3 linked regions of the Homo sapiens genome follow. The protein of the gene in region 1 purifies or fractionates together with the protein of each later gene. This does not show direct contact. Each region holds a gene or a part of one and is shown on either strand. Other genes may lie near its edges. The genes, in order: SLC12A3, TMEM131L and SCFD1.

Region 1 (3,072 bases):
TCTGTCACCCAGGCTGGAGTGCAGTGGCAGGATCTCGGCTCACGGCAACCTCTTTGTTTTTTTTTGTTGTTGTTGTTTTTTCTCTTTCTGTAACCTGTGACTCAGGCCTCTTTGGGCATCTTTGGTCCTATAATTTTCTTTGTTTTGGTGGCGGGGTCTTACTCTGTCACCCAGGCTAGAGAGCAGTAGTGAGATCTCAGCTCACTGCAACCCCCACCTCCCGGGACTCAAACAATCCTCCTACCTCAGCCTCCCGAGTAGCTGGGACTACAGGCACATACCACCAGGCCTGGCTAGTTTTTTGTATTTTTTTATGGAGACAGGGTTTTACCATGTTGGCCCAGGCTGGTCTCCAACTCCTGAGCTCAAGCAATCCACCTGCCTTGGCCTCCCAAAGTGCTGGGATTACAGGCATGAGCCACTGTGCCTGGCCTCAAAACTCTATTATAATCACCCCCTCACTCCCACTTTAGAGATGAGGAAGCAGCTTCAGAGAAGTTAAGCAACTTGGCCAGGGTCTTGCAGACAGGAAGTGGGAATTGCATCTGGAGCCTGTGACTGTGGTTCTGATGCAGGGCTGTCTTTCACATCTAGGTTAGATCTGAAGTCGCCTTTCTTTGTGGCTAAGAGATGTAATTCTGAAAAAATGTTCCTTTGTTCTGGAACAGTTTTATTTCTGAAGATTAGTAGCTCAAGGCATGCACATCCTGTGAGCAGGAATAGAGCACGTCATTGACTGGTGTGGGGGCGGGGGTGATTTTCAAGACAGCTGTCTCTCGGACAGGTGGACAGGCTGTGTTGGGGGAGGGAACTCCATGCTGAAGCTTGAAAGTCTGACATAGGTGTGTTGGATGTTCCCCACCCCCATGGTGCAGGCACCATTTCTCTCGTGGCCTTTGAAGTTTCTGAATTCAGTCCCCGAAATCATGTCCTATTTCCTGGATGTTGTCCGCCTCTTGCATAACTGCTCAGTCAGGAGAGTTTGGGCTCAGTACTCCTATGTCCCTTTCTCCTGGAAAGTCACTAAATATTTGAACTCAGATGACTATAGCTTAATGAAATGGCCTTGGTCCAACCCACCTTCCCTAATTTTTGAGACCTTTTGTTTGTTTGTTTGTTTGTTTGTTTGTTTGTTTTGAGACAGAGTCTCACTCTGTTGCCCAGGCTGCAGTGCAGTGGCGCAATCATGCTCACTGCAGCCTCGACCTCCCAGGCTCAAACGATCCTCCCGCCTCAGCATCCTGAGGAGCTGGGACCACAGGCGTGTGCCATCATGCCCAGCTAATTTTTCTATTTTTTGTAAAGACAGGGTCTCACCATGTTGCCCAGGCTGGTCTCAAACTCCTGGGCTCAAGTGATCTGCCCACCTCGGCCTCCCAAAGTGCTGGGATTACAGGTGTGACCATGCCTGGCCCGGGACATTGCTTTTTAAAGGAGGGTAGGGCTTGTCCCAGGTGAAGCTTTGTGGATGGAACTTCCAAGTGTGACATAGCTGTTTAGTATCCCAGTTACCCTTCTCAGAGGAGGTTGGAGTTGCTGTGAGCAGAGGCTGCTGCGGAGGGAAGATGTCAAGACCTCGGTTCGAATTCCAGCTTTGCCGCCGCTGGCTTAGCTGTCGCGTGCTGGTCAGTACTAAGTGGTGATGACAGCTGCTGACCTTACAGAGCACTCACTGTGTGCCAGGCATTGTGCTGTGCCTGCGTGTGCTTTGCCTGTTTTAGCATCACAAACATCCTGCGAGGGAGGTTTTTGTGTTCTTGCTTTAGGGAAGAGAAACTCTGCAAAGGTCATCTGGCTGAGGAAGTGGCAAAGCCACGACTCGGACGCCAGAGACTGGCTCTGACCTCAGCGCTCCAGCATCCTCCTCCCGCCCCAGTTCTCCCACCTGTGAAGGAGCGCGGTGCTGCGGGCCCTGCCCATTCCCCAGGGGGATGTACTTGGGGAAAACAGACACTCAAGTGAGTCCCACGGAAGGTGCTGGTGCCCCCACTTCATGCGGCACCAGCTGGACCTGTGAGACACTGCTGGAGCCCACAGACCCTCCTGGAGCCCAGAGCTGGGCAGCTGTGGCCATCCCAATGCATTTTTGGAATTCTCCAGATAGTAGAAAAGTCACTTCCTGAAATAGTTGGAAGACATGGCTGGACAGCATTCCCAGGGCATCTTTTTATTCACGCAGCATTGCACAGTTAAGACAAGGGGCCTCCCCATAGGCAGCGGTGGAGTCTTGCTCCCAGGGCCTCCTGCACAGGGCAGGAGGCAGGACAAAGACGCTGAGCTGGACAATGAATGAACAGGAACATATCACATTGCTGTGGCCACAGGCTGGCACAGGGCTGGAGAGGCAAGCCTGGCATGAAGCGGGTGGCCTGATAGGGAAGGGTCGCCCACTTAACAAATATATACTGAGCCTGACTGTATCAGACTGTGTTCTAGGCACTGGGAAAAGGGGGGTGAATAAGGCAGATCTGGCCTCCTTGTGAGCGAACATTCTAATGTGGGGAGACAAGCACATAAATCAGAAGATGCTGTTGGGACTGTGGAGGGCTCTGAAGGCAGTAAAGTGGGGTGATGTGAGGAAGAGGCGTGGGCGGCCTGCCCTGGAGGAGTGATCAGGGAGGAGGTGGGTGCACTTGCCTGACTCAAAGGAAGTGACCAGGTGCAGAGCTGGGGCTGCTCCTTTCCTGGTGGGTGGGGAGAACGTCAAGTGCAAAGGTTGGAGGCAGGAGTGAGCTTGGCATTTTTTTAGGAATGGAAAGAAAGCCACAGGGCATCGGGGGTGAGCAAGGCGAGGGTGGGAGGAGGTGAGGTCGTGGGCTTGGCAAGGACTAGATCCCATAGGGCTTGTGGGCCATGGCTTTGTTTAGAAACGCTTCACGGCAGAAGGTCCATTCTGGGTCAGGTTTGTGCGGAAAGTGGGGAGGTCATTCTTAGGGTGGGTGGAAGGAGCTCTGAGGGACGGTAAACAGACTCGCTGTTCTGAAAACAAACTGGGAGCTGGGCGTGTGGAGCGGCCCCGTGGTAATCTCTCTTCTACCACTTTTTCATGCCTTGCAGCACTTTGCCCATAGG
Region 2 (3,733 bases), on another chromosome or scaffold:
AGTGAGAGAGAGAATCACACAAATCATATCACTATATTTTTAAACCATTTCTAGAGGGGAAAACAACAACAACAACCATACAAGATTTCAGGGAAAGTGGAAGTAACCTACCCCTGAGCCACAGAAGAGAAGAGGCATGCTTTTAGTGTTGGAGTGTGTGTTGTTTTCTTCACATCTTCTATAATTCCACTGTCACATGATGTAGCTGCTTTGTGGTATAAAGAAATAAATGTGAAGCTTAAGTACCTTTTCTTTCATTAAGCCTGAACAAAAGATATATGTCTTATTTATAAATTTTTATTCACTTTTCTGTCTCCATTAAAATAGTGAATCAGACATAAAAGGTAACTACTTTCTCAAATGTTCCTGTCATCTTCTTTGTTGCCAATTATCCAGAAGTCCATACTTTTAAAAACCAACTTCTCTACCAGAAATGACAAAAGTGAAACAAGAAGCTCACTTGGCAGAGTAAAATGTGTGGAGGCACGAGCAAGAAAGGAATAAAACCTAAAGAGCAAAAGGGAGCTGACCAGCAAAAAGTGGGCTGCATTTGAAAGCAGTGCTGATTGATCAAAATAATACTTTTAAGCTCTCCTTGATTAGGTTATAATATTGAGTCGCTTGTGTTCAATTCTTAACTCTCTGATGCTAATAACCAACTTTTTTAAAGTTATATATATGGTTTTTAAAAATTCAAACACTAACAAAAAAATGTGAAAATAAAATCTACCTTTCTTCACCCTGACTCCCAATTATCTTGGAGGAGGCAGCTGTTAGCAGTTTCTGCAACATCCTTCCAGGTGTTCTGTGCATGTATAAGTACACAGATATCCTCTAAAAAAAAATTAAATGTACACACACTGCTCGCATCGCTGTCCATGCATGTTTCTGAACACTCTCTCACATCTGAACACAGATGATCAGCTGTTCTGTCCTAACAAACACACATTTCTTATAGGTACAGTTTTGAATACATACATATCTGGAGGATAAACTCTTAAAACTAGAATTAAGGATCAAAGAGTAAATATGTGCATTTTAAATTTTCATAGAGATTTGCCAATTTTCCCTCAAAAACAGCCTGCATAGACTCCTGTCAAAAACCTAACAGTGCTTTCCTTCCTAATCGTTATCAACACAGAATATTAAGCTTTAAACTCAAAATTCTACATATGTGGCAGAATAAAAGTGGCATCAACAATAGTTTCTACATCATACTATCTTAGAACTACTAAGGCTGGGACTTCTTGAAATCAAACGCATTCCCTTCACTTTTTTGAAACCATGCCTAATCTGTAGTTGTAGAAAGAGTTGCCATCATGACAACCAGATAACAAAAGTCAAATGACAATCTGTTTAAAAATCTGTACCTTTGCAGGTAAAAGAAGCAATTTTTGTAAAGTTTGTTGTAGAAGTAGGTAGTAGTACTGGTTCAAACTGCAGAGACAGAGCATCTCTCTGTGAGAAATGGCGTATATCCTGAAATAAAAGAAAAGTCCCATGTGACTACTCTCAGCTGGGAGAGTATTTATCCAGTTTGAATGAACCGTTAGAATAAATAGCACAGACCAGCCATACATAGCAACTGCTCAGCATCTGTGCCATAACCATATGGAGGGGATGCTGACAATCTTCATACAAACAGAGGTTCAAGCAAGGGCAAATGGGCTTAAATTAAAGCAAAAAAGAATAAAGATAGTGCTTCTGTCTCTGTTCCTGAAAAACCCTCATATTCTACAATTAAATGCACACTTGCAATTTTAAAAGTTACTTTAGGTAAGCATTTACAATTACCTGTATCCATATAAGGCTGTTTCCTGAATGTAATATATACATATTTACTGCTGAATCATCTGTCCAAAAGAATCAGAGTATTAAAGCAGAGTATTTAATCAGAGATTAAAACAGAGCCATCTCATTCTCACACCTTCATATAATCATTAAAATACCACATTACACATTTCTATAAAAAATGTTAACTTGTTTCTCAAAACTGAAATCAAAACTAGGAGGTGTTTTCTTTTTTTTTTTCTTTTTTAATCACAAGAAAAAAGATCCTCATAAAAATGCCTACCAACCTAAGCCCTCTAAATGATGAGGAACTACCAGGAGCAAAATTCTGAGTTTAGGGTCACACAATGCTCTTCTGAATGAAACTAACCAACTGGACGACTTCAAATAAAGCTATGTTCTCCTGTTGATTAGAAAGCTCCTCATTTCCTCATTTGGATAACCACATTTGGAAAGAAGAAAATCCTGAGATCTCAGGTTTCAGGCTTCCTTTTAGCCCTCACCCACAGAAGTGGTCCCCATGGGTCAGGGATCTGCCCTCATAGATGTTCACTGGCCACTATGAGAATCACCAAGCACTGAGGACAGGAGAGCTCTCCTGCTGATCCAGCACTACCACAGCCAGCTCTGAAGACTGAAAGGTAAAGGCTGTTTAACCAATTAAGACTGCCAAAGCAGGGCACGGTGGCTCATGCTTGCAATCCCAGCACTTTGGGAGGCCAAGCGGGGAGGAATGCTTGAGCCCAGGAGTTCAAGACCATCCTGAGCAACACAGGGAGAACCTGTCTCTACAAAAAAAAAAAAAAAAAAAAAAAAAACAACAAAAAAAAACGGTTTAAATTAGCCAGGCATAGTGGTGTGCGCCTGTGGTCCCAGCTACTTGGGAGGCCAAGGTGGCAGGATCGCTTGAGCCCAGGAGGCTGAGGTTGCAGTGAGCCGAGATCACATCTCTGTGCTCCCACCTGGGCTACACAGCAAAATCCTGTCTAAAAAAAACAAAAACAGAAACAAAACCAAAAAACAAACAAAAAAACCCAAAGAATAAAAACCATACTTTCTTGAATATGAATACAAATATACAGTCACATTCAGAAGTCTTGATAACCAAAAGATACTAGTATACTCTACGTTAGGAATTTCATGGATCACAGAATGTGTCTCTGAAAAAAGTTCTTAGGAAGTTAAACAGATGAATGCATTTATTTCTGATAAGTAGGACACACATTTCCAAAGATAAAATTCATAAAACTGAACACTAAAATTCTACCTAACTTGTCAAGCATCCAGGAACAACCGCAACCTATTAGCTATTTAAAATACAAAACAGCATGATGTGGTTAAATGAGCTTAGGCAAATCATTAAAAGTGGAACAAGAAACCCAAGACTTCAAATACTTTGTAAATATTTATATTAAACTGTCATGCCCATTTAATTTCCTTACTGTCTCCAAACATGAAGAAAAATTATTCCTAAGGAAACTCAGAATAGTTTGCAGTTGTCACTTCTCCCCAAAATAATACAGCCTTCTTAGCAGTTGTAGGTTGAGAACCAGTTACTACTACAATCACTTAATAATTAAAGCAAAGGCTATTTGTCTTGGTTTGCTATGATACAATCTGTTCATAAATGCTATAGAATGATGATGCAGACTGATGAAAATATAATAAAATTTTTAAACATTCCACCTTACCTGAGGTCTCAGATTCATCTGTAGCTACGTAAACAATAGAGAGATGATCTAACAAATGTTGTGTGTTTTCTTCAAATTCTTTTGAAAAGTTTTCCATTGTTACCATTATGCTCATTTGTAGACGCAAAACATCATCAGATTCCAGATAACAACCCTATGGTTGGAAGGAGGAGGAAAAAAGGAAAAAAAAAATCATCTCAACTTTGTGGTTTCAAACTATGGAGGAAAGGAGAAGCATTTAACGTAATGGG
Region 3 (3,733 bases), on another chromosome or scaffold:
TTTATTTATTTATTTTTTTAAGTAGAGATGGAGTTTCACCATGTTGGCCAGGATGGTCTCAATCTCTTGACCTTGTGATCTGCCCGCCTCAGCCTCCCAAAGTGTTGGGATTACAGGCGTGAGCTACCGCGCCCAGCCTCCTCCCTCCTTAATGGCATTCAAAGTACAGAAAAAACTGTTTAACTTTTAGTTAAGAAAACAGTATCTATAATAAAATTAATAATCGCTTGCCCTACTTTATCATTAATAGTATTTTCCTCATAAAATTACCCCTATTACACAGTTCTAACTGGTGAAAGAATGAATAATCTCCTATATCTAAGAGGGAACTAAAATCGGCTTAAACATTTAGCTAAATACAATTTAGTTCTTTAAATTCAAAGTTATATTTGCTATTGCCTACAGTTTCCTACTAGTTAAAAACATTAACAATTTTTTAGTTAAATAAAAAAAAAATCCTATCAACAGAAAGACTTCAAAGAGGATATACTGCTCACTTACCTAACAGCTGATGTTAGCTTAGCGGTATTGTCAGAAAGCATACTTATGGCTCCTTCATCTTCCCCTTCTAGTCCCTTGTAAAGAAAAAAGGTCTCAATAGCTACTCAAAAATCCCAGGCACAAGCATAAAAATCAACACATCCTAAGATTGGAGCAAATATCCTAAGATTATTGATATACCGTAAGATTTTTAAGTCACCTAGAATAGTAATTCTCCTCCTCTGAGGTGCAAGCATATATATTTTAATGTTACATAAAAGTTCTAGTAATCGCCAGTCTAATGGTTAGATGTCTAAATGATCAGCTGGCATTTTTGGATAAGGAGACAGGCCCAGAGACGTGCCATAGGTCACACAGCAATAAACAGTAGAGCTGAAATCTGAAGTTACATCGAAGTATGGTAGAATGAGCAGCATTGGAACATACATCTCTAAAATGATGCTACATTATATATTTTTTCAAATCATATATTATTTTTTCTCTTCTCAATATTTAGATTTCTTTTTGATCACTTACGCAAGTTGAAAATATTTTTGTTATAAAAGCATTAAATGGCCTTCAATTTTTATAAGGAAAAAAACCCAAATCTCTTTATCTAACAGATAATCCTCCTCTTTCCTATAATTCTTAGAAAGCAAATAGAATCTTACCATAATGCTTTTAAGTCGTTTGACCTCATCTTCCTGTGCTCTGTAAGATTCTAGTTCTTGCTGAACTGATTCTGCAACTTCTGGGAATGGACTAAAACAGTATTGCACAAGAACTATGAGGATGACATTAAAAGACCAATTTTTGTGTAAATTCTAAAATATATACAATGAACATTTATTATTTTAAATATACTTATTTGGATTTGAATATATGTTATATATAACAAAGGCAGAAAAGATTCAGCACAAATACAACTACATATCTTTCTGATATCTATATAATACTATTTCTTTAAAATGCATATAATATACATCTAAAATTTAAATTTCATTTCTATTTTTCATTAACAGTATCATACATTCTCTTCACTTATACGTTTTTAGAAGAAAAAGTAAAATATTTACATGACTGAAAATCAATGGAAGACAAGTCATGTTATATCAAATATCAATTAAATATTCCCATCCAAATTAACACGTCATGTCAAAGGGTCCATGCAACTACAAAGACAGCATTTAAAAATATCACCTGCAAGTAACTGTGAAAAAATTCTTGTAACTCAGAACTCATAATATCCCAGAACACTACTGGTAAAAATAGCACTTGGGCCACAGTTTTGGTGGCCTAATACCTGATGTCTTCTACCAGGACATTGTGGTTTAGCAGTAACTTACATAGACTTTAGGCAGAAGTGATCTGCAATCATGAGCACTCAGGTAGAAAACACTGTACTAATCTTGACAAACTCTAGGTGAATACATGTTGATCATTAAATGTTTCTTAAAATGAGTATTTTTCATCTACAGCCTAGGGGGAGGCCAGAAGCCTTTTCTCCTTTAAGAAAGAAAAGGTCATGTCTCATTAACAGTGAACAAAAACCTTTCCCCCCTTCCTCAGCTCTGACATCTGAAAATACCTCTCTAATAACAAGCACATTTTATCCAATGGAGACTAGCAGAAAAGACAGGAGCTCAGAAAGGATTCTGAGGAACACAGTCCAATTTTACCTCACAAGCACAGGCATTTACTCCAGCTCCAGTTGAGTCTATGTTGGCAAAAAATAGCACTGAGGCCTCAGCATTGCACTGGGGAGTCAGAAACCCTTGTTCCATCTAATTATAATGGAAACTTCCTTTACAGGCAAGCTCTTACCCTCTCAGGGCCCTAGCTTTATCTGTAAAATGTGTGGGTTGAACTGGATAATCCTCAAAATCTCTGATATCTTTAGGTCTCAGAGTTAACAGAGAATAATTGCTCACATTTATTAAGTGATTTTACTATACATCAAACACCATGCTAAGAATTTATCTTTTCTTTCTTTTTTTTTTTTTTAAGATGGAGTTTTGCTCTTGTTGCCCAGGCTGGAGTGCAATGGCGTGATCTCGGCTCACTGCAACCTCATTTAATCCTGATGAATCTGTTGAGGTAACTATCATAACTTAACTATTCAATGTTAAGACTGGGTGCTTTATGGTCTGCAAGACCTGGGTTTCATCCCTGGCTTTACCAACGAAAGCTGGATGACTTGGGCAAATTACTCCTTTAAATTCATTATCTCAATCTTCTCAACAACCTTCTGAAATAGGGCAATAGGTAGAATTATTATCTCCCTATTTTACTGATGAGGAAACTGAAGCTCAGAGAGGTTTAGGTCACTTGTTTATGCTATCTCCAAGTGTCTTTGTGCCCATGTTACTATTGTATGTAAGATGCAGAGCAAAAGAGCTATTCCTACTTAATGAATAGGAGGTTAAAATTCTTACTATTCAACTGACCTCTTAAATTGTTCTTAAACATATGTTCTAAAAAAATTCAAAATTTCCATATTTGAATACAGAGATTTTTTTCTTAAGCTTTTCTCTATTAGGGAATGCCAACTTCAAAATATTCTGTATTCTCTATAAATAATGCCTCTCTAATAAAAGTAATTTCTTGTACTTCACCATTCTGGAGGGAAACGTAGATTATGGAATTCCAAAGGGAAGAGTATTATTTAAAATCAAATTTATTAAAATTAATTAAAATAGTACCTAAAACTGCCATAGTGAGAAAGAGAAAGACAGTGACTTTTCTCTGCAGAGAAAGTCAAATCTTTGTTATGGCGATTTGATTTTCCAGCTTAAAAAAAAGTTGTAAGTAAAAAAAAGATAAAGCATATTAAAAACCCAGCATGTTGAACCAAGTCTATATTCGACTTCTCTTTAAACAATAAATATAAGCCCAAAAAGAACAGCTATATCAAGGACACACACACATTTTGAAATATTTTTTAAAAATCATATTTTCATAATTGTTGATGAACAGTATTCTTTTTCTCTGAGGAATAATATTTTTGTTTGTTTAGAATGATGGCTCTAGCCATAATGATCACTAGATAACTTTTATAGCAGTAACTGAGCCCATGAAGTACCCTAAACTTTAAGGGGGCATAGCATCACATGGGATATGTATATCTGCCCACAGTAAATCACATGGCAAATTAATGCAGTTTTATCACTCATTATTTCTAATGTACTTTGAATAAATTTCTAGGCTTTTAGGCTTAGGTACTCTCTCCACAAGTATCTAAAACAAGGTTTAC

What was found.
Region 2: the proteins of SLC12A3 (region 1) and TMEM131L purify together in Homo sapiens (affinity purification with mass spectrometry; one large-scale study listed by BioGRID and IntAct). This does not show direct contact.
Region 3: the proteins of SLC12A3 (region 1) and SCFD1 purify together in Homo sapiens (affinity purification with mass spectrometry; one large-scale study listed by BioGRID and IntAct). This does not show direct contact.

The regions. Positions count from the first base shown.
Region 1 is NC_000016.10:56,910,207-56,913,278, forward strand, and holds part of SLC12A3 (solute carrier family 12 member 3), read left to right. Parts: intron 1-3,057; coding exon 3,058-3,072. UniProt on the Homo sapiens protein: Electroneutral sodium and chloride ion cotransporter, which acts as a key mediator of sodium and chloride reabsorption in kidney distal convoluted tubules.
Region 2 is NC_000004.12:153,581,310-153,585,042, reverse strand, and holds part of TMEM131L (transmembrane protein 131-like isoform 1 precursor), read right to left. Parts: intron 3,637-3,733; coding exon 3,483-3,636; intron 1,854-3,482; coding exon 1,795-1,853; intron 1,480-1,794; coding exon 1,371-1,479; intron 209-1,370; coding exon 112-208; intron 1-111.
Region 3 is NC_000014.9:30,670,766-30,674,498, reverse strand, and holds part of SCFD1 (sec1 family domain-containing protein 1), read right to left. Parts: intron 1,243-3,733; coding exon 1,152-1,242; intron 576-1,151; coding exon 502-575; intron 1-501. UniProt on the Homo sapiens protein: Plays a role in SNARE-pin assembly and Golgi-to-ER retrograde transport via its interaction with COG4. Involved in vesicular transport between the endoplasmic reticulum and the Golgi.